Homo sapiens: one gene and its partners. The protein of the gene in region 1 purifies or fractionates together with the protein of each later gene. This does not show direct contact. Each region holds a gene or a part of one and is shown on either strand. Other genes may lie near its edges.

What was found.
Region 2: the proteins of GSTT2B (region 1) and NMD3 purify together in Homo sapiens (affinity purification with mass spectrometry; 2 studies listed by BioGRID and IntAct, with this or other methods). This does not show direct contact.
Region 3: the proteins of GSTT2B (region 1) and SPDL1 purify together in Homo sapiens (affinity purification with mass spectrometry; 2 studies listed by BioGRID and IntAct, with this or other methods). This does not show direct contact.

The regions. Positions count from the first base shown.
Region 1 is NC_000022.11:23,956,073-23,966,719, reverse strand, and holds GSTT2B (glutathione S-transferase theta-2B), read left to right. Parts: upstream 1-5,524; 5' UTR 5,525-5,588; coding exon 5,589-5,700; intron 5,701-6,338; coding exon 6,339-6,426; intron 6,427-8,018; coding exon 8,019-8,169; intron 8,170-8,261; coding exon 8,262-8,435; intron 8,436-8,787; coding exon 8,788-8,997; 3' UTR 8,998-9,306; downstream 9,307-10,647. UniProt on the Homo sapiens protein: Conjugation of reduced glutathione to a wide number of exogenous and endogenous hydrophobic electrophiles. Has a sulfatase activity.
Region 2 is NC_000003.12:161,216,358-161,224,310, reverse strand, and holds the start of NMD3 (60S ribosomal export protein NMD3), read right to left. Parts: upstream 3,001-7,953; 5' UTR 2,902-3,000; exon of another isoform or gene 2,587-2,901; intron 2,318-2,586; 5' UTR 2,298-2,317; coding exon 2,254-2,297; intron 1-2,253. UniProt on the Homo sapiens protein: Acts as an adapter for the XPO1/CRM1-mediated export of the 60S ribosomal subunit.
Region 3 is NC_000005.10:169,584,432-169,593,911, forward strand, and holds part of SPDL1 (protein Spindly), read left to right. Parts: intron 1-2,767; exon of another isoform or gene 2,768-2,941; intron 2,942-3,941; exon of another isoform or gene 3,942-3,962; 5' UTR 3,963-3,985; coding exon 3,986-4,144; intron 4,145-4,167; exon of another isoform or gene 4,168-6,398; intron 6,399-6,616; coding exon 6,617-6,793; intron 6,794-8,922; coding exon 8,923-9,117; intron 9,118-9,480. UniProt on the Homo sapiens protein: Required for the localization of dynein and dynactin to the mitotic kintochore.

The DNA of each region.
Region 1 (10,647 bases):
CCGGAAGTCCCATCGTCTCCGCCCTACGTGTAGCCCCACCCACTACAGGTCTTTAACCCGGTAGTGGACCCACCCTGTCTCCCCCGACCCTCCTGCCTGGCGCCAGGTGGGTTTCCCTCTCAAGCTTCCGCGCTGTGGTCGCCCGGTTCCTAGCCCTATTAGAGGTCTGAACACCACACCCCCGACACACAAGGACACACACACACCTATAGGGGTCTTCCCCAGGCTCGACCCTAATAACCAATACAACGGGAGCTTAAAGTTTTTTTGAATGATTTGCCACCATTTCGAAGTCAGGCAATTTCATGTTCAGTATGGAAATCTGCGCTTGGGCAGTCAGGAGATGTGGTTACTCGCGGGGGCGCGGGTAGGGCTAGGCTCACGACAATACCTGTCCCTGCCTGGTCCCCATTGACATCTGCCTGTGTAGCCTCTTGTGCCGGTGGTGAGCCACTGTCCACCAGGGGGTGGCAAAATATGTTCTTTAAAACATGGAAAGGCCGGGCACGGTAGCTCACGCCTGTAATCCCAGCACTTTGCGAGGTCCAGACGGGCGGATCACCTGAGGTCAGGAGTTTGAGACCAGCCTGGCCAACATGACGAAACCCCGTCTCTACTAAAGATACAAAAATTAGCCGGGCGTGGTGGCAGACGTTGTAATCCCAGCTGCTCGGGAGGCTGAGGCAGGAGAATCGCTTGAACCGGGGAGGTGGAGGTTGCAGTGAGCCGAGATCGCGCCATTGCACTCCAGCCTGGGTGACAGAGCGAGACTCCATCTCGAAAAAACATCAGAAAACATGGAACTCTGTTGGCGTGGCTTAAACATGAGTGTGGTCAGTGTGGCAAAATCACTTGAATTGTACATTACAAATATGATTGAAGTTGTGGTCGAGCAATGTGGCTCACACCTGTAATCTCAGCACTTTGGGAGGCTAAGAAGGGAGGATTGCTTGAGCCCAGGAGTTAAAGATCAGGCTAGGCAACATAGCAAGATTCTCTTCTTTATTTTCTACAAAAAAAAAAAAAAAAGAAAGAAATCTGGGTGCTGTGGTGTGTGCCTGTAGTCCTAGCTACCTGGGCGGCTGAGGCAGGAGGATTGCTTGAGCGCAGGAGATCTAGGCTGCAGGGAGCTATGACTGTGCCACTGCACTCCACCCTAGATGACAGAGTGAGACCCAGGCTCCCCCCTCCCCCACAAAAAAGAAAGAAAAAATTTGCAAGTTTATATGTACAATTTCAACTACGTGTATAAAATTCTCTATAAGTGTGCATACTTAAAGGAGCCTCCACTGAAAGGCCGACAGAGTCTCTGTCTGTCATGATCTTGTCCTATTAGCAGTTTGTTTATTAGATGACTCAGATATCAGAAGGTCTGAGACACACGACAGGTAAATATGACAGTCCTAAGGGGAGAGGGCAGGGACAGGTGGCAAGTCTGGGACCAGGTGTGGGGCATGGACAAGCCAGTGGTCCGGGAGTGGGGTGTAGAGAAGACTGTGGTCAAGGTTATGAGGAGGCATGGGAGAGGGCCAGGAAATAACCAGGGACTTCCCTTCCTGCAAGGAGGTTCATGAACCAGCCCTGCACCCCACTTGTGGAACACAACATCGCCCCACAGTGAGGAGAGAGACCGAGGAGACCAAGGCTGATCCTGATTCAGACATCTTTCCACCAGGTCACCCCTCATCGATGATACATGCTCAGTCCGGGGGTATCCCCCGCAAGGAAACACTGGGGCTGAGGAGCCCAGAGAGGTCGCCTGACCTGGACTGGGGCTGGGGAGGTCAGGGAAGTCTCCCTGGAGAAGAGACAGGGTGCCAAATGCCAAAAGACCAGGAAGGGCACCAGGCGAAGATGAGGAGGGAACAGCATGAGCGGAGGCCAAGAGGCCAAGGTGGGAGCCCAGAGAGGGGTTAGGAGTGTGCAGGCAGAAGGGGCCACCTGGAGGAGTGGGAGCAAGGCCTTGAATGCAAAGTTCAATGACTTGTACTTTAGCTTCTGGGCAGTGAGGAACCATACAAAGTTCCACACAGAAGGTCAGGGTCAAGTAAGCGTTTGCCCAAGCTCTTTTCAGAGGTCACATGGAAGCTAGAATGGAATGGGGTAGGAGACAAAAGGAATGCAGGCATGATATCTGGAGGAACTGTGGACCAGAGCCTTTGCAGATATGTCTTCTCTTCAACCAAGGAGACGGACAGCTCCATGTCTTTATTCTACCAACACAGCATCCCCTCAGTGGCTCAGCAAGTGTGGGACACGCACTCACAGCAAGAAAAGCTGCATTAAGGTCTTCAGATTCTCTTTAACAGCAGGTTCTACTGGAGGCAGGTCCTTGGCCTTCAGGACAGCTGGGAGGGCCTCCTGGAAGAAGTCCTCCCGCACTGCAGCCTCCACGTGTTGGGCACCATGCTGCCACCGTGGGTCCGCTTTCAAAGACTCAGCAGCCAGCACTGATGGGCTAGGGGAAGACAGAGTCAGCGGAGGGGCTGGGCATAGCCAAGTGTAAGGCAGCATGACCTGCTTTAGGGGTTCTCTGATTGGATTTTCCCTCCTCCACCATGTGTGTGATGGGCTAGGATGTCCCCCTCCCTGGGGACACTTGGAAGCCTCTTAATATAGCTGCGGTGAGGGGTTTGTAAAGCCCCATTTTATAGATGAGGACACTGAGGCTCAGAAGGAGAAGTGACTCACACAGGGTCCCACAGCCAGAAAAGACAACATGAGCTGGGATGTCAGCTCCCTTCCCGGATACACCACTGCCCAGCGGGCCACCGCACCCCATGGCACTCTCATGCCTCAGCTCCGTGATTGCCACCAAGCCAGCCACAGAGATACGGGGCCCAGTAAGGAAGGCCTGGTCCCGCAGGAACTTGTCCTCGAGCAGCTGCAAGCATCCGTCCAGCTCAGCCAAAGTGGCCGCCAACATCTCGGGTGGCACTGACTCGCCCAGGAACACAGGGATTATTATCTGGTGGGCCGACAGGCAGAGAGAGGGGTCAGGGTCTGCCCAAAGCCCATCCTGGTTCCCACCATCATCCTATCATCACCAGTCCTTGGGATTTCTGCTCACCTCTGCTCACTTCTTTCCACTCATAGCCACCAGTAGCTCTCATCTCCTACTCAAACAGGGACAGCCTCCCCCTTCTCCCTGGGTCCTCACACAAGGCAACCAGTGGGATCCTTCTGTAATCTCAATCTGCCCGTACCCTCTCTTGCATAAAGCCTTCCATGGCTCCCCACTGCCCTCATGAGAAAGGCCTCAACACAAAGCCAGCCTTCTCCAGTGCGGTAGCCATCCCCTCCCCACTTTTCACCTCACCTCCTACTACCCCCCACTTATCAAACGGGAATGTGTGTATGAATCCTCCCTGGAATCTGGTTACAGTTTATGCTCCCAATCAGTAAGGTCAGAGTGGGGCCTGAGCCTCTGCATTTCCAACAAGCTCCCTGGTGATGCTGATACTCCCAGTCCATTGACCACACTTTGGATAGGAAGAGTCTACACTTGCTCTACTCAACTTCTCTCCATTCTGTCCTCAAACACACCACGCTTCCTTCCCCACCAGCTGGAGGGGGCTCTGCTCCCAGGCCCCAGAGGTCAAGGCAGACACAGTTAAGGTGTGGAAACCTCCTTATTGCCCGATGGATCCTCCAGAGAGGCGGTCCCTTACTTTCAGCAGGGCGCGTGTCTACCTGTTTCATGCTGTCTCACACACAGGGTGCCACCCCTGTGCTGGGCACTGGGTAAGTGCTCTGTACATATTAATTAGGAGTACTCATTTCAAAAATATGTGTGCCTTTGATAAATAAAAACAGTATGTGCATGTTGTGTTGGTGTGTGCTTCCTTGATTATTACTGAAGTTAAACATGTTTTCATCCATGTATTGACCATTTCTCTTTGTCCTTCAATGAAACCTCTGCTGATTTCCTTCGCTCATTTTTTTCCTGTGTCTTCGTCTGATGAGTTTCTCTTCTTTTTGTTTGTTCGTTTGTTTGTTTTGAGACAGTCTCGCTCAGTGGCCCGGCTGGAGTGCAGTGGTATGATCTCAGCTCACTGAAACCTCTGCCTCCAAGGTTCAAGTGATTCTCCTGTCTCAGCCTCCCGAGTGTGCCACCGCACCCAGCTAATTTTTGTATTTTTAGTAGAGACGGGGCTTCACCGTGTTGCCCAGGCTGGTCTCAAACTCCTGACCTCAACTGATCCGCCCATCTCTGCCTCCCAAAGTACAGGGATTACAGGCGTGAACCACCACACCCTACCTGTCTGATGGGTTTCTAAGAACATCTTAAAGGACATTACTTCCTTCTGACGTATCTTTTACCGAGATCCTTCCCAGTTTTTTGCTTAAGGTTAATCCATTTTTTCCTCCACAAAGTAACCTTGTATATGTATTGGTTTTTTCTTTGTTGAGTTCTCCCACTGTTCTGAGGCTTAGAAAGTCCTTTCATACCCAGACATCAGAGAAACAGATCCCGTGAGAGTAACTGGGATTGCAGGTGTGGGCCAGCATGCCCTGTTATCACTCCCTTTCTCTGAGTCAGCTTTTCTCTCTCAGTCTCGTCTACTCCTCGAACTCAGGAAATGTCACTACAGGTGGCCCCAGCTCCCGTTTACCTCCCCATAGGGAGCTCCTCTCTCCAGTTCCAGTTTCAAAACTCCCAAGGAAGCATTCTGGTTCACTCGCTTGGGCCACTGGCCAGAGGGATGGGATACTCTGAAAGATTCAGCTAGAGTCCCGGGCCCAGCCCTGGACCATCACTGTGCCCCCTGGTGAGATGCCAGGGCTGGGATTCAGGGAGAAGAAAGGAGGTTCCCGGACAGTCATTCCTGCCTCCCGCGGCTGCGGGCTCCCTGCCCCCATCCTGTGCACGAAGTGGGAGCTCCCGCTGTCTGGCAGCTCCCGCTGTCTGGCAGCAGCTGCTCTGCAGGGGACAGTCTGGACGGCAGAAAGTTCATCCTTAACCCCAGCCTTCCAGTCAAGGTTCCCACCAGTTTGGGACACCTGCAAGTGTCACATCCCACTGGGTGAAACTCTAAGATCCCTTTTAGGGGATCCCATTCGCTCCCTCCCTTCCGCCACCATGCAGCGCCGAGAAACAGAGCTCTGAACGAACCCTCAGATGTCCGTGCGCTGGGGCCTTTCCAGGACGGCGGCGCCCAGTCGTTTCTGGGTCAGGGCGACGCCTGGAACTGGGCAGGGTCCCTGGCACCGGGATCCCGAAAAGCAGACCTGCTTCTCCCTGTCCAGCCGGTTCCCCTTCCCCTTGCAGTCGGCCCCCTGCATCCGCGTCCTCCCTGCCAGTCGAGGGTCCCCAGCTCCAACTCCACCCTCCCAGCTGTGCGTTCATAGCGACCGCCCTCCCTGTAGGGACGCACGGATCTGGTGGTGGAGTCTTGGCCGGCAGGACTGGACAGGAACCGAAGGGGCGAGGCGGGTCCGGGGGTGGTGCGCTCCAATTGGGTGCTGTCCCCAGGGGGTGGGGCCTGATCCCCTATTTCCCGGCGCGCCGGGATCCTGCCACAGCTGCTGCCCACACCGCGCTCAGCGCCTTCACTGCCATCCCCGCTGTCCTTGCCGCCCCCGCCATGGGCCTAGAGCTGTTTCTTGACCTGGTGTCCCAGCCCAGCCGCGCCGTCTACATCTTCGCCAAGAAGAATGGCATCCCCTTAGAGCTGCGCACCGTGGATTTGGTCAAAGGTGGGCCCAGCCCGTTTCCCCGCGTGTCCACAAACCCAGTGCACCCCCAGGCCCCCGCCCTGCTCTGCCCTGAGCGTCTCGCCGCCCGCACAGCCCCCTCACCTCCTCCTGCAGCGTCTGCCACCAGAGAATGCTGTGGACTGAGTGGCCTTGGAGGGATCACAGCCTCTCTGAACCTTAGCTTGCCTTCTGAAAAGGAGGATAATGTTACCTTCTGCTCTGTAGGGATGGAAAGAAAATACTGAATGGAGTTGACAGAGTTCTTGCGTGGAATGCACGCATATAAATTCACAAAGCCCAGAAGACCTTGGGAAGAAGGACATGCTGTTGTGAGAATTAAGAGATGGGAAGAGATGAGCCACCCCAGTTTGCCTCCCCTCCCCTGGCCCACCAGAGTCCGGCTAGAAAACTTCTCTTTATCCACCTGCTGCACCTGGCCCCACCCACCAAAGCCCCCCAGCTGCCCCGGAATGTGGCAGGGCAGGGAGGCCCAGCCAGGGAGTGAGGCTGATCCAGGCCTCTAGTCCCAGACCTTGCTGTTTCTCAGGGCTGTGGGGCTCCGCTTGGGGAGGAGGAGGGAGGGTGTAGAGGTGCAGCGTTTTTATTCTGAAGACCTTTTCTGACTTCTTCCTCTTCAGGGCAGCACAAGAGCAAGGAGTTCTTGCAGATCAACAGCCTGGGGAAACTGCCGACGCTCAAGGATGGTGATTTCATCTTGACCGAAAGGTGCCCTCCTTCCCTCACCCCTCACCGCATCCGGAGCCCATGTGACCTTGGCTCTCCCCACTGGCCCCGGGCCCCAGTGGCCCTCCCATACCCCATGGGGCAGCGAGGGAGGGGAAAGGCGAGGGATCTGGCCGGGCGCGGTGGCTCACGCCTGTCATCCCGGCACTTCGGGAGGCCAAGGCGGGCGGATCACGAGGTCAGGAGACCGAGACCATCCTGGCTAACACCGTGAAACACCGTCTCTACTAAAAATGGAAAAAAAATTAACCGGGCGTGGTGGCGGGCGTCTGTAGTCCCAGCTACTCTGGAGGCTGAGGCAGGAGAATGGTGTGAACCCAGGAAGCGGAGCTTGCAGTGTGCTGAGATCGCGCCACTGCACTCCAGCCTGGGCGACAGAGCTAGACTCCGTCTCAAAAAGGCCGGGCGCGGTGGTTTACGCCTGTAATCCCAGCACTTTGGGAGGCCGAGGTGGGCGGATCACGAGGTCAGGAGATCGAGACCATCCTGGGTAACACGGTGAAACCCTGTCTCTACTAAAAATACAAAACATTAGCAGGGCGTGGTGGCGGCCGCCTGTAGTCCCAGCTACTGGGGAGGCTGAGGCAGGAGAATGGCGTGAACCCAGGAGGCGGAGCTTGCAATGAGCAGAGATAGCACCACTGCACTCCAGCCTGGGTGACAGAGGGAGCCCACTCCAGCCTGGGCGACAGAGGGAGACTCCGTCTCAAAAAAAAAGGAAAGAAAGAAAGGAGAGGTATCTGGGGAGAAGGTACAGCTTGGGGTGTGACCGGGATGAGCAGGGGCTGACAGAACATGTCCCCCCACCTCTCATCTTCCAGCCTTTTCTGAGCCGCAGGGCCTCTCCACTCCCAGACTGAAGGGTATTAGAAGAGAAGACAAGGGAACATTTTTCCACTGTTGCGCATTTGTTCAACAAATGCTAGCTGAAAAGAGCCTCTAGTGACTTGTTGCAGACTACCCAATCTACCCAGGCCGGGCCTAGAGGCCAATGCCATGGCCCAAGGGCACAGCTCATGGTGAGGTCCAGCTGCTGGGCAGGAAAAGGACAAGAGGTCAGGTGGCTGCAGAAGTGATGGCTGGGGGCCTGTCAGACGGGGGCCAAAGACATTCCTCCCCTCGTGATCCCTGACCCAAGCGCGTGGACATGCAAGGGACTCCACGGAGCATCCACTGTGTGCCAGCCCCATGCAGGGTTCCAGGGGTCCAGGGAGCCTATTCTGAGCTGCACCGCCTCGGACAAGTCACTTGACCATTCTGACCTTGAGTTTTCTCTTGTGCTAAAAGGCTAACAGGAGTGTCTACCTCACAGGGCGGCTGCTGGCATATCACAGAGATGAGGTTCTCAAAATGCAAAGCAGAAGGTCCAGCCAAGAGTCGGTGCCCAAGGCAACAAAGACAGGAGGAGACTCGTAGGAGGAGGGGGTGGTGTTGGGGAGCTGGAGATGGAGGGCGAGGCTGGAGGGCAGTCCTTCAAATGCAGAGAAGCCCCCGGGCCCCACTGGCAGATGGGAGCAGTTAGGGGTAAATGCCTGGTGCCAGTGTCCTTATAGCCACTGCCCATTTGTTCCCAGCTCGGCCATCCTGATTTACCTGAGCTGTAAGTACCAGACGCCGGACCACTGGTATCCATCTGACCTGCAGGCTCGTGCCCGTGTTCATGAGTACCTGGGCTGGCATGCCGACTGCATCCGTGGCACCTTTGGTATACCCCTGTGGGTCCAGGTGAGGAGAGCCATCTGGAGAGTGATTGGCCATCAGGGAGTAGTTGGCAGTAGGCCGGGGCCATAGACTGACCCACTCTCTGCCCCCATCAGGTGTTGGGGCCACTCATTGGGGTCCAGGTGCCCGAGGAGAAGGTGGAACGCAACAGGACTGCCATGGACCAGGCCCTGCAATGGCTGGAGGACAAGTTCCTGGGGGACAGGCCCTTCCTCGCTGGCCAGCAGGTGACACTGGCTGATCTCATGGCCCTGGAGGAGCTGATGCAGGTGTGAGCTCAGCCTGTGGGCAGTGTCCCTCTTCGTGTCACACCCATGAGGCAGACAGAAACACTGAGGCCTGGAGAAAGCCAGAACTTTGCCCAGAATCATAGAGCAAGTCTCTGGATGATCTGGGGCCAGAACCCTGAACTTCTGCCTCCTGCCTGGGTGTGGGGTCTCACCCTGGCTGCTCTTGGGCTCTAAGGCTGAACATACTGCCTGGGCCCCTGTGGTCCATTCACTTAGGGGCTGGGGAATGGACCATGTCTCTGATACTTCTGCCCATGGTTCCAGCATTCGGGTCGGCAGTGACAACTGGGAAAGTTGTATGCCCACAACTTTTTCATCCTTGTCCCTACAGCCGGTGGCTCTCGGCTATGAACTGTTTGAGGGACGGCCACGACTGGCAGCATGGCGTGGACGAGTGGAGGCTTTCCTGGGTGCTGAGCTATGCCAGGAGGCCCACAGCATCATCTTGAGCATCCTGGAACAGGCGGCCAAGAAAACCCTCCCAACACCCTCACCAGAGGCCTATCAGGCTATGCTGCTTCGAATCGCCAGGATCCCCTGAAGGGTCTGGGATGGGGGCCAGGAGATTAGCAACAAGGATTCATTCTGTTACTTACTTGCCCCTTTTTATCTTTCCCTCTTGCCCCAGTCCCTTCTCTCCAGCTTCATGTGAAGCTCTGCACAGACAAGACACTCAGTGTCCTTGGCAGTGCTGCTACTCCTCAGGTGCAGCATACATAACCAGTAAGAGACTAAATCTGCAATATATAAAGAGCTCCTACAAATCAGTAACATGAAGAACACTCAAAAATTGGCAAATGTCATCAGTGTTTTAAACAGAATAAAGATTCCAAACACTTTGAATAGAGAACCAAGAGTTATTGGTTTTACTACATTGTTGTGTTATACATATGGAGTAAAAGTATGTGCTAGTAATCCTCATCATGGTTAATAACAAAGTAACCTCACAATAACGAGTCAACATAATTGTATCACCAGGGCAACAAAATGTTAAGTAAGTAACCAATTCGAATTGCAAACTGTTAAAGGATATAGGCGATGTTTCACAGGGCATAGCAACGGTCTTTGAAGTCTAGGAAACTTAAAAGATTTCTTTTAACAAGCATTCATGTCTTCTAGGACAGTTTTGTAATAACTGCAAATAGTAAGATTATACATTGTCACACAGACCTCCATGTATATCCATGGGATGGACCCCACCACAATGATTTTAACGGAGAGAACTTGATATAAAGAATTGGTAACCAGGCATTAGAGAACTCCGAAGACAGAGAGAATCCAGATTAACACGGAGGTAAACACTGCAAGAAGCTACCACCCCTAGGGCTGGGGGATCAAGGGAGGAATTAGGAAGACCAAGATGCTGGAGGGGCCCTGAAGAATTCAAACCTCCAAGAAAGGTGTTGCTCATCCCCCCTAGTATCACCTTCCAAGAAGGGCAGGTTTCCCCAGTTTGCCCTGAGGTCTTCACAGGAGGTCATGTGGCTGTGGATGCAGTTCTCAAATGTGACAGTAGATGTCACTGCCGACCAATAAACAGGATGTTCCAGACACACTCTGGGCTACCTGCCCACATGTCTTGTGGCCTTACGGCCCCCCATTTCCCAAGCCTGCCCTGTGCCCATCATGTGCCACTCTATCGGGGGACCTGCCCCAATAATCACGTAGGTTCTTTCCTATTTTTCCTAACCGTCAGCCGGCTTGAGAAATAAAGGGAGAGAGTACAAAAGAGAGAAATTGTAAAGCTGGGCATCCGGGGGAGACGTCACACGTTGGTAGGATCCGTGATGCCCCACAAGCCACAAAAACCAGCAAGTTTTTATTAGGGATTTTCAAAAGGGGAGGGAGTGTGCGAACAGGTGTGAGTGACAGACATCAAGTACTTAAGAGGGTAATAGAATATCACAAGGCAAGTGGAGGCAGGGCAAGATCACAGGACCACAGGACCGAGGCAAAATTAAAATTGCTAATGAAGTTTCGGGCACCATTGTCATTGATAACATCTTATCAGGAGACAGGGTTTTGAGACCAACCGGTCTCACCAAAATTTATTAGGTGGGAATTTCCTCTTCCTAATAAGCCTGGGAGTGCTATGGGAGACTGGAGTATATTTCATCTCTGCAGTCTCGACCATAAGAGACAGGCCACGCCCAGGGGTGCTGTTTATAAGCTGATACCTCCTGGTGCGTAT
Region 2 (7,953 bases), on another chromosome or scaffold:
GGTCTGTACAACAAGGTAGCCACTAGCCACATGTGGCAACTGGGACATGAAAAGTGACTAGTACAACTGAGAAACTCAATTTATTTTTTTAATTCAAATTTACATTTAAATAGCCAGTATGGGTCTAAACAAGTCTTTTTTATTAAAAGCAAATGAAACTATATTGTCACATTAAAACAAATGGAGGTATATTGATGAAGAATACAAATCTTGCACTAATTTTAATTTTAGATACTGAAATATAATTAAAAATGTTAACGTGCTCTTTACCACACCCAACCAACACTATCCATAAAGATAACATTTATTAATAATTTGTATATATCCTTCCAAACATTTTCTATGCAGACACAAACATTCACATTAACTTTTACAAATAAACAGATAAACTTCCCAACCACAAGTGTAATAGCAAACTTGGGAAAAATTTGAGAAGCACTGTTATTCATTATCCCTTGTTGAAAATTGGAAAACCAAGAAAGAATCAATTAACAAGGCAATAGTGTGTCAATGGCAAAAACCAAAAAGAAAATCCTGTATCAAGAATATGTAAGATCAGTTTGTCTCTTTTTAATTCAACCACCTCATCTCTAAATACTAAGTCTTCAAAAATCTATTTATTCAGGGCATACAGAGGACCATAGCTTAGGTGAACAGTATGGTGTCACTACATTAAAAGACTACAGCTGTCTACTTATCTCTAATGAACATTTCTTCAAGTATATCTCTGGACTACACCAATAGAAACTAATATCTAAATCATTTCTAACAGAATCAGACGCCAATATACTCCAAAGGCAATTAAAAAAAAAAAGCATAAGGACTGCTGAAATATAAACATTTACCCATAGCAGAATTTTTTTTTTAACAGTATAGGAAGTCTATCAACATCTAGAGACTCAGTATAAATGACGGAACTATCATAATTCGAGATGTACTGGGGGCAGAAAAAGTCTGAGAACCCCTAATGTAGAACAACATTGTCCAAAATAAAAGTTCAATAATCTTCCATGTCCAATGGTAGCCACTAGCCACATGTGGCAACATGGCTAGTACAAACGAGCAACCAAGTATTTAATTTTATTCCATTTAAATTAATTTAGGAAACTTCCAACTTAAACTGCTTGGGGTTTATGTTGACAGAGTGGAGCCAGCGGTACCACCTGGAAAGAAAGCAGTTCCTGACAGAGCTAACCAGGCTCTTCCAGAAGTGCTGGTTGTCCGGAGGGAAGTATAATGGTCAAACAACCCATTCCAAGAAAGGGTTCTGTGAAGGGCTTTGAGCCCTTAGACAAGTGTCTGTTAAAAGCTACTGATAGAACAAGGAAGATCAGCACTATGCTGAGCTCCAAAGACATTTTCAGATGGCTTATTCAAACCCACTGAGCTAACTGATGGACAAGGGAAGAGTAAAGCATCACAGGGAAGGGGGCCAAATTTCCTGCTTTCACTAACCACTGAATTCCTATTTTTCCTTTGGTTTTTACTTTTGGCCACAAAGCTAGTTTCTCCATAGTTACTGTTTTCCTGTGAGATTAGGGTCATTCTAGACAGAAGGACTACAATGTTTACAGGGTAGTTGTGGTAAGAAGCCAATTTATTTTAGATTTAGCTAATTGGTCTGTGCTGAACGATTCCAGGATTATCGTTTAAAAGTCTCTGTAGTAATCTCTTTGAAGAGCACTGTATCATTAAACCTATTTAACAGCAAAAAAAAAAAAGTTAATTTGAACTTAAATGCAAGAAATTAAAAATTGATAACTAAGATTTAAGATGTTCAAAATTTAAAAATTACTACATTATAATCTCCAATAAAAATCAGGAAGTCATCCGAGCTACTCGGGAGGCTGAGGCAGGGAATTGCTTGAACCCGGGAGGTGGAGGTTGCAGTGAGCCGAGATCACACTACTGCACTCCAGCCTGGGCAACAGAGCGAGATTCCGTCTCAAAAAAAAAAAGTAAGTAAAAAGTAAATTTAAATAGCCACACGTAGCTAATGGCTACATATTGGACAGTGCCGATCTAAAAGGATGTATGGTAAATATTTTAACCCTCTTAGAGCTTATATTTACTAGAACAAGCTTTATAACCAGAAACTAATTCGATTTTCTACAGAAATAAGACTTCTATTTTTTCCCATTTATGACAATATACGCTCTTTCCCACCCACCCTCAAGCGTTCTCCATAGTGAGTTTCCCGGGCTCACTGAAGATTTTCACATTTAAGGGGGAAGGAAGAAGTGTCGCACTCACATGTGTCCAGGGCTGCGGTCGGTGGATTCTGCCATATACTCCATCGTTCTGTATGCCTTAAGTTCTTTTAAAAAAAAAAAAAAAAAAAAAAAAAAAAAAGAGAATGTTGGGATTTAAATCACTTTACCTAGTCTCCTCTTTTTACGTCTTCCTCCAGTCTCTCTGAATAATTAATATATTCACAGAACTTCGAAAAAGCAGGAAAGAAGGAAACCCAACTCCACTGGGTAAGTTCGTTAAAAAGAACTTTAAGATGAGGACCATGGGATTTCCTGAGCTTCCCAGCTGCAAGACCCTCGGGCCACCCAGCTCTGCCGCTGACCTCCATCTCACCTGGGCTCCAACCCTGGACGACCAAGGGCGAGGTCAGCTCGGGATTGTGGACGCCCGGGCCCTCCCGCTCTCCACCAGCCCAGGGACCGCACCGGACCACCGCGCCTCAGACCCACGCCACAGGAGTCTCCGGACGGCGTCCCGGCGCCCGAGGGCCACCCACGCCGACCCCCAACCCCGGGGCGCGACCGCACACGGGTTCCGGGCACGCGGCGCTCACGCAGACTGAGCACGGCCCCGAGGCCGGGGAGCCCGCCCCATCCGCTACTCAGGGGCCCGCGGCCGACAGCCCAGGTCTCGGACTCCGGAACCTACTTCGCGCCTCCAGACCAGCCCTGGATTTGCTGAAAACCCGCAACAAAATAGACCCCGGCTGTCCCGTCAGCTGCCAACCTGGCTGTCTCCGCCACAGAGAAGATCTCGCGAGCGAAATGCTCGAAATCCCGCGGCCCGAGTGACGTATTAAAAGGGACGGGGTGGGGACGAGGAAAGGGGCGGCACCGACGGGCGGAAGGGTGATGGGAGCGGCCTGGTGGCTGGGAAAGCTCGCGGAGAGAAGTCCCAGGGGCTCATTTGCCGTCAGTGACTGCTTTTCAGTTATCGTCTCGATTTTCCCAGGCCAGGGTTTACTCCAAACCAACCTCGCCCGTATATTAGTCTCTTTTCAGCTATCCCGACTGTGAGCTTGCTTCTTGATTAAATGATTATTTTATATAAAAGTTATCTGTAAACGGTACCTTATGCAAAGAAACTCCATCCAGGGCAGTGCCTTTTGTCTGTTTGGTTCACCGTCATATACAGGCCTGATGCCTGCCACATGCTAACTGCTCAAATGATTATTTGTTGAAAGAATGAAATGTAAAGCATAATTATCTGTGAAGAAGTCTATGCGATTTTTAGACAAATTATTAATTATGTGCTTCCGGATAGTGCATTTAATATCTTCTTATGACTGATTTATCCCTCAAACTTGGAGCAGCACAGACCGTGTCTAATCTGTCTCATGACAGCCTTTCAAATATTTGAAGAGTACAACCATTTTTTTTTCTAAATCCTCTCATCCCAAATTTCAAGGAATAAGCAAAGGCGTTTTGTAGAGGGTGATCAGAGACAGCCTCTCATCATTTCTTGCCCAGAATACTTAAGTAGCCTCTCGTCTGTTGTCTCTACTTGTAGACTTCAATTCATCCTTCTGAAATGCAGTTCTGATTTTGTCACACTCCCCTGCTTTTAATCCTTCAGTGGCCTCTGATTACCTTCAGCATTATTTCCAGTTTCTTTGTGTGGAAAGAAGACCTTTCAGGATCTGATCTCCACATATCCTGTCCTACTCCCAAGCACACGTACTCGCAAGCCATGAAGACCAACTGGCAGGTCCTCACAGAAAATAGTCTTCCTTTGCTTCTACCCGGGACTCGGCACTAAAGATTAAGCCTGAATTAGTTTCCTAGTGCTGCTCTAACAAATTATCACTGATTTAGTTGGCTTAGAAAACACAAATTTGTTCTCTTCCAGTTCTGGAAGCTACAGGTCTAAATAGATGGTGAGGGCTGACTCTGGAGGCTCCAGGAGAAAATCCATTCCCTGGCCCTTTCCAACTTCTACACGCTGCCCACATTCCTTGGCTTGTGGTCCCACATCATTTTGCAGTCAGAGTCTCCTTTTCTCACCCCCACCCCCCCGCACCCCTCTTACAAGGACACTTGTGATTTCACTGGGCCCAACCAAATAATCCAGAATAATCTCTCCATCTCAAGAAATTTAATCACATCTGTAAAGTTCGTTTGCCATGTTAGGTAATATATTCACAGATTTCAGGGAATAGGACATCTTTGCAGAGCCATTATCCTGTCCACCATACATCCTCTCTTTTCTGACTCCTTCGGTCCCTAAGGGCCAGAGGAGTTACATGCTCCTTCTGTATATATGGTTCTATGATAACACCTTTATACGAGGTATATGCCTCTATAATAGTGCTTTGAATTGGATCATAAATTTTCTACTCTGCATGCCCAGCAGTTTCAAAACCCTGGAGAGCAATTCGGGTCTTGTTCTTCTTGGTGCACCTAGCACAGCAGCTGACACAAAACAGACCCTCAATATATATTGGTAAATTAATTATCCATTTAATACCCACCACAACTCTGAAGAGACAGTGTTTTTCTCCCCGTTTTTTCTATTCACACTGCCTATGCCCTCAACCAAACACCACTAGGAACACAGCTGTAGTTAAGCAGCTTCTGTCTATTTATTACTCTTCGAAGTGAGCCCAGACACTCACCATGGATACCCTTTGGGTATCTCAGTAAGAGGGTGTTTAGAACAAACCTATCATAGGATTGGGGCTTTGGGCGGGTGTTTTCGGGGAGGCCCTAAGAAAATAGAGGTTTTTCTATAGATTGGATGCTGTCAGAAAGCAGGGGCAATTCTGTGATTGGATGTCTCAGTAAATCTTATTTACACAAAGGGAAGCAGGAGGATAAAGCTGCAATTAGCAAAGAAGTAGCAGTCACTCATTTTGGTGAAGAAAGGGAATGTTTGGTATTTTGTGGGTGGCATAGTGAACTTATTTTGGTCTGTGCTTAGACAAAATTATGAAGTGACCTTCTTTGCCTCATTTTATCATGGTTTCAGAGTAATCTTGTCTGAGTTTAGTATTCTGTGAAATTATTTCTGTCTAATAGGAAAATATTATGGCATAGCTGCAAGTACCAGACCAGCTTCTAAATGTCAAAGGCTGCTCATTTTTTAACACATTCCTTCTACAATTATTTGATTTGGCTCTGAATACCAGGCTTCTTAAGCACTTGATGTATGATAATAACAGCACAGATATGGTCCCTGCCCTCATGGACCTTACATATTACAGATGAGGCTGGATTAGATTAGGCAATTTGTTGAAAGTCCTATAGCAAATAATTGATAGAACTGGGACGTGAAATACAGTTTGTTTCTGAACCCAGACCCTCACCATAGCAGCCTACCTCCCCTTCTGAGGCTGAGGCCGTCTATTCCTATCCACAACCTTTTGATAAATGAAATACTTCTGTAGTAGAAGGCACCTATATTTCTCTCTTCATCTGCCAGCCCCCACCACTAAGATTTCCAGATGTCAAAAGTAAGTTCTTGATTTCAACTACCTCTCTCATGAGCCTGAATGAGCTTGCTAGGATTGGACTGAGTGGGATAATATTGGCAAACAATACCAGAGGGAAACTCACTTTGCACTTTTTATTTAACCTCAAATCTCACCTGAAAATAATAGGTGAGATTATTTTCAGCTCCCATAGTCCTTGCACTGAGGATATCTATCTGTATTCAAATCTAAGCCTTAGTATATGTTTACAAACTTCATTTCTATGTGTTTAACCATGGTATTAAAATGGAATTCCTGGCCGAACATAATGGCTCATGCCTGTAATCCCAACACTTTGGATGGCCAAGGTGGGAGGATCGACTGAGGCCAGGTTATCCTGGACAACATGTTGAGACCCCCACCTCTAAAAAATAAAAAATAAATATAAAACAATCAAATTAGCCAGGCATGGTGGTATGCACCTGTAGTCGTAGCTACTCAGGACACTGAGGCAGAAGGATCACTTGAGCTTAGGAGGTCAAGGCTACAGTGAGCCAAGATTGCACTACTGCACTCCAGCCTGGGTGAAAAAGGGAGACCCTGTCTCAAAAAAAAAAAAAAAAATCTGCTAATCAATGAAATAATGAAATTCTACACAGAACTTTCAAATGCATACTGTGATATTTTTCACACTATCAAATGTGATAGCACATTTGGGGATATCAAGATAATATTGGAGATTAGTGCAGGGGAGGTGTATTAGGGTATCCTCTTAGAATCAACACCTGTGGAATAGAAGGGCAGAAGCACCATTGGGCAGAAGGGAGCTGTGCTGCCGTGCAGTCTAGTGGAAGCCTCAGCTAACCCTGTGGGAAGCTCTGAAGCTGAAATGACCATTCTGAGTTTTCCCGAGGGGGACTTTGCTCATCGATGAGTCATTGGATGTGACTGTCCCAGGAAAAGGACATAGCATTGGGTGATATTTCTCTCTTCAGCCAAGGCAGTCCCAGAAGTAGATGAAACTGAGGGCTTTCTGCCAGCAGCACTCCCTGCTGTTGTGGGATAAGTACTTCATTCCTTGAGGGGGATCTGGGCAGTACCTCACAGCCACAGCATGCGCCATGTAGAAAGCAGTATGCCTAGGAGAGTCGGTGGAAGACATGGACTCTAAAGTCCTTGTTTCAAGTCTGAGATTTGTGACTGATAGATTCTGTGACCCTAAGGATTTGCTTTACCACTCTGAGCCTTTCTAAAAGCTCCTTTCCTCCTTTCTAAAACTATGTAATAATCCCTACCTCAGAAAATTGTTATGAGAATTGACTGAGATAAGGTACATAGAAGTGTTTAGTAAACTGCAAAATACTATAATGATTGTAGGCCCTGTTATTCTCTGGTGAAGATCCTTAATAGGAATTGAGTGAAGCAATAAGAAATGGTTTGTATCTGAAACAGCCAATGTATCAAATTTGAAACATTACACCTGCGATTCTGCTTCACCCTTAATTTACAATATAAAGACATCATTTAGTAAATGAAATAAAAATTTAGTGTTCACTTTGTAAAATTTGTTAGGGGTAGTGAATATCTGAGTTACTGGTGGCAAATAGATACAGGTCTGCAGCAACCTCAATTCTTGCCTTCTCGGCAGAAAGAATTTGACTGAGGGGCATAAGGCAGAAAAAGAGACTGAAGCAAGTTTCAGAGCAGGAGTAGAAGTTTATTTTAAAGCTTTAGAGCAGGAAAGAAAGGAAAGTACACTTGGAAGAGACCCAGGCAAGAACTGTGGAGGTCAAATGTGGTGTTTGACCTTTTGACTTGGGGTTTTATATGTTGGCATATTTCGGGTGTCTCCGCATTCCTTTTTTCATGATTCTTCCCTTAGAGTGGGCAGCCCACATGCATGATGCTGTCCTTGCGCTTGAGAGATGAGCAGGTGCAGTGTGTTTAAGAAGTTGTATGCATGGCCACCTGAGGCTTTTTTCCCTTTTCCGGTGGAATGCTCCCGGAAGGTCATATAACCAGTTAAAGTCTGCCATTTTACCTTTCAATGTACATACTCAAGCCCACTCGCCCAATTCCTGAGATTTTATTGGAAGTTGTTGATTACCAATTTCAAGTGTTTTTATCCATTGGGAAATTGCCTCTCCCTGGTGCCTGCAACCAATTATTATTTTTAGAAAGGTGATGTGACAACTGCCAGACCATCACCTGATGGTTGCCTGACATTCCTGGTGGGTAGGGGAAGCCCTCTCCTGTCCAGCTCTTGCCTAATTACCACTGTAACAGATTCA
Region 3 (9,480 bases), on another chromosome or scaffold:
GTGTCAGATTCTACCCTAATTGCTTTTCATTCGTTATCTCATTTAATCCTTTCAGTAACCGATTAGGTGGGTGTTATTGTGCTTGTTTTTATAGATGATTAAACCAGAAATTAAATAACTTGTCCAAGTTCATGCAGCCAGTGAGTAGTGGAGGCGGGGTAAGAACTCAGGCAGTTTGATTCCCAGAGTTTCCTGTGTCCCAAATGCTTTGTGTGTGCTATATTTTTGAGAAGCAGGACAGGAAAAATGGTTGCAGCACCATGGTTTCTAGGTAGATTCTAGTTCCCATCACACTTCGCGTCTTAACTTGCGGGTAACCCTAAGCAAGTTACTTAAAACTTTCTATGCCTCAGCTTGCATGTGTAAAATGAGGGAAATACCTTCAACCTCTTGAAGTTGTTGAGAAGATTGAATAAGAATGTGTATAAAGCGGCCGGGTGCGGTGGCTCACGCCTGTAATCCCAGCTACTCGGGAGGCTGAGGCAGGAGAATGGCGTGAACCCGGGAAGCGGAGCTTGCAGTGAGCCGAGATTGCGCCACTGCAGTCCGCAGTCTGGCCTGGGCGACAGAGCGAGACTCCGTCTCAAAAAAAAAAAAAAGAATGTGTATAAAGCACCAAGCACAATGTCTGTCACACATTAGTAGTTTTTAATCAACCACGGCTATCTCTCTTTGTAGATTGATAGGTTAACTCTTTCTCATCCATTAGACCTCTGCTGAAAAGTTACTTCCTCAGGAAAATTTTTTTGTCCATGTTCCCTTCTACGCGCTGCCCCCCAGATTAGGACAGCTCCCCCTTGTTACAGGCTCAGGTAGCATACATCTGTCTCTCTTGCACTTATCATACTTGTAACTTGATAGTTCAATTACTTGATTTAATGTCTTTTACTAATAGACTAGGATTCAAGAAGACAGGAATATTGTTTTAGGTTGCCATTGTGTTGTCAACACTAGCACAATGTCTCACACAATAAGAATTCCAGCAAATTTTTTGAATAAACTAAAGCAAATTTTTTTTGGCTTCTCTGGATATGCCTGGCTGGAATGTCTTGAGGTTAACCCTATTTTTATTTTGGTAGTTGAGATGACAGTATTTACTTAACTCAAGCTCATCAAGATAATTAGATGAGATAATATATTTGAAGCAGTTAGCATGGCAAATGGTAAATCCTCAACGAATGTAAGTTATTGTGAACAGTACAACATTTAGTTGGCTGGCCGTATCATGTACAGGCTTTGAAAAGGTCTTGCATTTTAGAGCAGTGACTGCCAAGCTGGGATTACCTAGAACACCTTTTTTTCTCTCTTAAACCCTGTATCTCTTCCCTTGTCTTCATTCTCAGTTAAAGACCTTGCTTCCTAATTCATTGATAAATTGAAGCAGTTAAAAGGTTACTTACACAGACTTCCACCACTGTACCTGCTTATCAGCATCTAAACTCATATACTTTGCTTAAATGAAATATCCATGCTTCTATTAAAACCAGTCTCTACATTAAACTTCATCCTGTTTATTCAGGGACATCACTAGCAATTCTCCAGTGTCTTCTAGATCATCAGTTTTTCTTCTCTCCTGGATTTATCCCATGACCTACAAACACTGTTATTTTTTTCCATCTTAAAAATAAAAAAACTTGTCCCTACTTCCTCTCCAACTGCTGCTCCGTTTATCCGTTATCCTTTGCAGCAAACCTGTGCTTGCTATCTTTATCTCCTACCATTCTCTCTTGAAGGCATTCTAGTTAGGCTTTCACCCCCACCTGGATATCAAAACTGTTCTTGTCACCAGAGACCTCCAGGAATTCAAGTTCAATGGCCAGTTCTCTGCTCTCACCTTAATTGCCTTAGCAGCAGCATCTGGCATGATTGATTACTCCCACCTCCTTAATACACTGTTTATTGCCTTCCAGGACAACACATACTCCTGGTTTTCCTTCTACCTCACTGGTCACTCCTGATTCTCCGCTGTCTTCTTCCCTACCTCATAACAGGGTTCAGTCGTTGGTCCATTTCTCTTTAAATACTTTTATCCTCTATAGACTGATAATTCTCAAATTTGCATATCCAGCCAAGATTCCTCTTCTCATATATCCAATTGCCTACTTGACATAGTTCATGTTCAAAACTCAAATTCCTGATTTTATTTCCAAAACATTATTTACATCAGTGCTTCAGCTGATGGCAATTCCATTTTACTAGGTGCTCAGGCCAGAAGACTTGGAGGCATTTTTTACTTTTCCCTTTTTCACACATCCCAAATTATATCTTTCAGAAAATCATATTGACCTTACCTTCAAAACCTTCAAAATCTGGCCATTTCTCACAGCCTCCTATGCTGCCACCCTAGTCTGAGCCATTTCACATGGTCTCTGCTTCCAGCCTTGTTCCCCTTCTAAACTAGTCAACATAGCAGCCAAAATGATTCTTTTAAATTATATCAGATCCTCTACTCCAGACTTTGGAATGACTTCCCATGTCACCCAAAGTAGGAGCCAAAGTCCTTATAATGGCCTGATTTGCCCACTCTCTACTATCTCTTAGCCAAATTTCACTCCCTGGGCTTCTTCCTGCCTTAAGGATTCCCCTCTTGCTGGAACATTCTTCTTCTAAATAGCTGCCTGGCTGATTCTCTCATCTTCTGCCTCCTGGTTACATCACCTGTCCCTTCTTCCCAGATTCTTATTCTGTTCTATTTTTTCTCATCTCCCCTTTCTAATTTATTAATATTCTGTTACTTACTGTTTATCTTCCCCTCCTGGAATGTAAGTTTCATGAGGGAGGAGCTTTTTTTTCGTCCATTTTGTTCCCTAATGAATCTGAACTGCCCAGAATGGAACCTAGTATATAAGGCATTCAAGAAATACTCGTTCAGTGAATGACTACATTGACTTGAGACATGGGGGAACATCTTGCAATGACCTGGTGCCCTTTGAAGGCAAAGGTGAGTTTGAGTCTCGCTTAGGAGGCTGGGACCAAATAGTAAAGGATAATTAGTAAGGTTGATTAAAGTGGAATGTTTCTATATATAATGTTTAAGTCTTTGTTTATAAATCTAGAATGAAAGCAACATCCTTTAATTCTTATGGATATGGTTTCTATTTTTGCATACTTTTATGAATAACTAGAAAAATACTAGTGAATCTCTTTCCAGGAAAGCAGATTTAATATATTCAGGAAGTTAACACTGTTGTGAAAAATTACAGACATGATATTTCTTACTTTACCTTATGAGCCTTATTCACAGCTGCCTTTTTATATTTTATGTGTTTATAGTACCCAGACCTTCCTTTTCTGGTGGTATTATTGTTATTATCATTATTATTTCTCAAGACAGTGTCTTGCTCTGTCAGTGCCATGATCATAACTCACTGAAGCCTCTAACTCCATCAATTTTCCTTCCTTAGCCTCCCAAGTAGCTAGGACTACGGGGGCTTGCCACCATCCCCACCTTATTTCTATTGATTGATTGATTGAGATGGAGTCTTGCTATGTTGTTCAGGCTGGTCTCGAATTCCTGGCCTCAAGTAATCCTCCCCAGTTGCTGGGATTACAAGCATGAGCCACCATACCTGCTACTATGAGGTTTCTTGATTACTTTTTTGTTATTCCCTTAATTTTGATTATATGGATAGTGGTCCAATTATGAGACCAAACTTACCTTAACATATTGGAAGCTTAGCATACAACAACTGAACAGTTTTCTGATGGTGAACTGTTTAGAAGCAAAATTAAATGTATTCTATTCCACTCTTTAATTTTTGATCCCAAATCAGTAACAGAATTGTCAGAACAGTTCTTGCTCTTGGAACAAGAATGCAAATTTGACTACTTATTAGTCAGGAAGAAAATTTTAATGTTTTTATACGACAGTAGTATTGAGTAGATATGTTTCTTCTGTTATTGATATTATTGCATGGAGTTTTTTGTATAAGCTTAAGTAGTTTTATTTCCTCTATTTACAGTTGGCTAAAAAAAAGAAAAGAACATGGAGGCAGATATAATCACAAATCTTCGATGCAGGCTCAAAGAGGCTGAAGAAGAGCGACTAAAAGCTGCACAGTATGGTTTACAACTAGTAGAGAGTCAAAATGAATTACAGAATCAATTGGATAAATGTCGTAATGAAATGATGACCATGACTGAGGTAGGACTCTGGACTCCTCTGTCTGCAAGAGTGTGCTTAGCTATTGAAGATTTGTCCTGTTTAGCAATTAATAGTAGTAGTAGTTTATTCTTTTCTGAAGATTTTAGATCTAGTTCCCGCCCTGCCCCGTCCCTGTTAAAAAAGAATGAACTAAATGAATTCCTGTTATTCTTTCCACCCTAGTGTATTCAGAGTTTGAAAGATCAAGTTATCATTACTCTCTTTGCCACATTTACTACCAGATTTTGCTTTGTCTGCACACTTCCTAGAAGACCTCACTTGTTTTAGACCTCTAAACATCTAAGTGCCCCATGACACTACACCAAGCCCTTAGTTCCCCCATGAAATCTAGGTTTGTGTTCAACTGCCCACTAATAGACTTCTCAAACTTAACACAGACAGAAGAGTGGATTCCCTGTCCGTTAACCAAATATTCTTTTACGATTTTTTTTAGCTTATTTAGTAAATATAATAGCATTCAGTTTCTTGAACACCAAAAATCTTTATATACCAAAGATTTTTGGTATATTTTTGGTTTCTTTATATACCAAAAATCTAGAACTTTTAGTCAATATCTTCCCTTTATTTCTCACATTTCACTCATTAATAAGTTCTAAGAACTAGACTACAAAGCATGTATCTTTGCTACTGGCACTGTAGTCCAGATCACCATCATCACTCCTAGACAAGTATTGTAGCCTTCTGGCCGGGTTGCCTGCTTCCATTGTTGCCATTCATGCCATTCATTCTTCACTCAGCGTCTAAGTGGTCGTGGAATAACACACCAAAGGTCATGCCACAGCCCTGCTAAAAACCATACAACAGCTTCTGATTTTATTTACAACAAAATCTGAGCTCCATCCTTGGGTTTGTAGATCCCTATGTGACCTGACCCCTGCCAAGCTTCTGACCTCACCTCAAACTGCTTTGCCTTGTTCTTGACTATACTGGTCCTCCCTTATGGGCTTTACACCAGCTATTGCCTTTTTTTTTTTTTTGAGTTGTTTACCCCTCACTGCTCTTGGGTTGAGTCCTCAGATTTCAGCTTTCATTTAAATGTCACTTCAGCGGAGAGGTCAGCCCTTACTATGTAATGTAAAGTTGCCCTGATTCACTTTTTTTTTCTTTTTTCTTTTTTTTTTTTGAAACAGGGTCTCACTCTGTCGCCCAGGCTGGAGTGCAGTGGCGCAATCTTGGCTCACTGCATCCTCCACCTCCTGGGTTCAAGAGATTCTCCTACCTCAGCCTTCCGAGTAGCTCGGGGTTACAGATGTGTGCCACCACATCCGGCTAATTTTTGTGTTTTTAGTAGAGATGGGGTTTCACCATGTTGACCAGGCTGGTCTTGAACTCCTGGCTTCACGTAATCTGCCTGCCGAAGTGCTGGGATTACAGGCATGAGCCGTTGTGCCCGGCCCTGATTCCACTCTTAATTATCTGCATTGCTAATTATCTCTAGATTATAAACTCCATGAGAGAGGGAATTTTGTATGCCTTGTTCACTATCCTGAATGCCTGCCACACGATTATTTCTTAAAAGAATGAATGAATAAATCTGGGTAATTTAGCAAATGCTCAGTAACATATTTAAACTTGAATCTCAACATTGTAAATATGGCAGGTAAAAAATATCTGTAGCAGGTAAAAATAACTAGTGATGGCAACCTTTGTGTTTCTACATAGTACTGTTGTAAACCAAGAACTGAGTGCAAAGTCATAAAGGCAAAGTAAAGATTACAAATATCACTAATAGAAAATAAAACTGTTATACTTAATCATTTTGAGTCATAACTTGTCAAATTTCAGTGTTTAACAGTTAATACTCTTTGTCTTCCTTTAAAATAAAATGGTTTTTGAGGGGAATATTTTATCATTTTTTAAAGCCTCTTGAAGGAGTTCGTACTTGTAACATTTTTAATGTCTAAACTTCCCTGTGAGTAAGCAAAAGCCCTTTTAATTACTCCTTTTGTCTCAGCTCTGCATTCATTCTGATAGACCTTTTGTGACATTTCTCAGATGACTACATTCTGAAAGTAAAGGCTAATTCAGTATTTCTTTTTTTTCAACTATTATTACTACTACATTGTGTTCAGAGCTACAAGTAGAGCATCTCATTATCAAACTAATAATTCTCATGAGGAAAGCTTAAGTGCTGTTAAATCTTTTTTTGTTGTTAGCAGAGATTACTTGACTTGACGTGTTGACATACCATGGAGCACATTTTACTTCCTTGACAAGGCACAGAAGCAGTAAGGTATCCCTTGCATGGGTTTAACATAGTTTCGAAATACACCTCAGGGGTTTATTAAGACTGATTAACTACAAAGTTATTCCAGGTTTAACATGTCTTCGTTATTTGGAAAGCAGCAAATGCTTGAAATAAGAATGAAACAATTGAAGTTGAAAACTGATTGTATGTAATGGCTTTAGGCTATTTTTATGTAATTGAATTGTAATTGAATCTGTTTTCAGAGTTATGAACAAGAAAAATATACCCTTCAAAGAGAAGTTGAACTCAAGAGTCGAATGTTAGAAAGTTTGAGCTGCGAATGTGAAGCTATTAAACAACAACAAAAAATGCACCTGGAGAAATTGGAAGAACAACTAAGCAGAAGCCATGGACAGGAAGTGAATGAACTAAAAACTAAGGTTGGGATATCTGCGTATTTCAGCACAAAATATTCCATATTTATGCAGCCATCTGTAAACTTTAGATGATAAAGATTTTCTTAAGTGTCAGCTTTGCAAAATAGCCAAGATCTAAGTCTTCATTATCTTAATATTGGGGGTGGGAACACTGAGATACAAGAGTTTGTCTAAGGGACTTGTATAAATTATATCCTATTAATTAAATACAATTATTTAATTTTGGTTGCTGGATATTTGTGAAGGTTTAGTTTAGTGACTAGCATGGCCTCCTTGCTGATAGTGGGTACAGCAGCCCCTTGCAGAAAGCCTCGTCTCCTAGCCTTCCCTGCAGTCAGTGGTATGCTTTGTAATTCTGTAAAACAGACCAGTAGTTTCTTACTAGTTAATGTGCATTACAAATGACACTTTATAGTTTGTTTACTGAGGATAAACTAATACATGTGCTCCAGTTCTTACAATAATATTGTGGAAAGGTACCATTATCATTTCCATATACCAGATGAAAGAGCCAGTGTTTAGACAGACTGAGTAAATTGGACACAATTCAAGAACTAGAAATTCTCCATCTAGGTTTGAACTGAGGCTGTCTGACTCCAAAGGCTGTGTTACTGAATCACTACATAGTCTAACAGCATGTTACACTGGCTCCATTTCAAACATAAACGCAAGATAAATGATTGGTCAGTGGTTTTCCCTTTTCCCAGCTAGCCAGTGCTTTCAGGTTGCTTCTGAGGAATCCAGAACTTTTTATCATGGATCTGCTTTGTGTATAGTCTATACTCTGACTTTTCCAGACACTGTCTACCAAAACTTGCCTGACTTTTGTCCTCCTTTCTCAGAAGTCTGTTACCCAATTTTCAGCTTCTTGTATAGCAGCCTCTAAGATTTTTCTTTTTCTGTATACCACCTATACTATTACTTAATTTCTCATTGACTCTCTTTTAATGTTTACTGATTTTAAGAAACATCAATGAAAGTATTTTTTTTTCCTTTTTTTTTTTTTTTTTTTTGAGGCAGAGTCTCACACTGTCGCCCAGGCTGGAGTGCAGTGGCATGATCTCGGCTCACCTGCAACCTCTGCCTCCCGGGTTCAAACGATTCTCCTGCCTCAGGCTCCTAAGTGGCTGGGATTACAGGTGTGCGCCACCACGCCCAGCTAATTTTTGTATTTTAATAGAGACAGGGTTTCACCATGTTGGTCAGGCTGGTCTCTAACTCCTGACCTCGTGATCCGCCCACTTCAGCCTCGCAAAGTGCTGGGATTACAGGCCTGAGCCACTGCGCCTGGCCAAAATTACATATTTAAGCTTGCTTATTTTTTCCCAGTATACACTAAAACAAACATAGCTATCTAAATATACCTTCATGTAATATATAATCATCTTGCATACCACTCTGACAGATAATATCATCCAGCTTGTCTGAAACTAGTCGGATTTGAGGCCCTAATGACTGATAATGATGTGCTTTCTTCCCCCTCTGGTTGTTATTTTTATTTTTGCAATAGTTTTCATCACCTAAACAAAAAAGAGTAATAAAGGGAGTATTCAGGACTGAGGTAAGGCTAATTATAGAGATGGCTTTTTTTTTTTTTTTTTTTTTTGGTGGAGCAAAGAGTACATTAGTGAAATATTTTGTTTTACTGATTTTCTCAAATCACTTATGCCAAAATTTGGATTTTTTTAATACCTTTTCTTCTCTTATTTTTCACATTTAATTCATCAAGTTCTAAGAACTTGACCTACAAAACATCTATGACGCTACTGCCACTCCAATCCAGACCTTCATCATCTCTTTCCTGGACTACTGCTGTAGCCTTCTGACCAGGTTGCTTGCTTCCATTGTTTCTCTTCATGCCAGTCATTCTTCACACAGTAGCCAAGTGGTCCGCATCATAGTGCCTCCAGATTGCTTCTGAGGCATCCAGACCCACCCCGATTACTCATGGATTATTTCTATGTTTATTAAACAAGGTGTGTCACTAGCTGTTAAAAGATGCCTAACCTTGGGCAAATAGGAAACTCCAATAGTATCATCATTCAGTAAGTTTGGTTCAATCAGTTCAATCAGTGATTGTTTTTAGAAAGAAAATAACTTTCAATTTATGACTTTTTTTTTTTTGGCTTTAGATAGAAAAACTGAAAGTGGAATTAGATGAAGCCAGGCTTAGTGAAAAGCAGCTGAAGCACCAAGTAGATCATCAGAAGGAACTCCTCTCTTGTAAATCAGAGGAACTGCGCGTAATGTCTGAACGTGTGCAGGAAAGCATGTCTTCAGAGATGCTGGCTCTTCAAATTGAGCTGACAGAAATGGAGAGTATGAAGGTAATTTTTATGGCATGTGTTTCTCAGGGTTTTCTCTTTTTTTTTCTGGCATATTTTTACATGTTTTGGTAATAATTCTTAAGAGCTAGTTTGAAGGCTGAAACATTTTTTGACCTAACTTGCATCTAACTAATTAAAAAATGGGTTTTTTTTAGGTGGATGACTTCATTCATAATATAGCTTTAGACTATATGATTATGTAAGGCAGCCTTTCTCTTAGATTAATGAAACGTCTGGAAGAATTTAGAGGCATATACTCTGATCCCAGATTTTATCGTAAGAGCCCAGTGTAAAACGTTGGCTCAGTGGAAGTTGAAATGCATGTGAACTTGGTTTTTTCATTGAAAGCTAAGGTTAATTAAA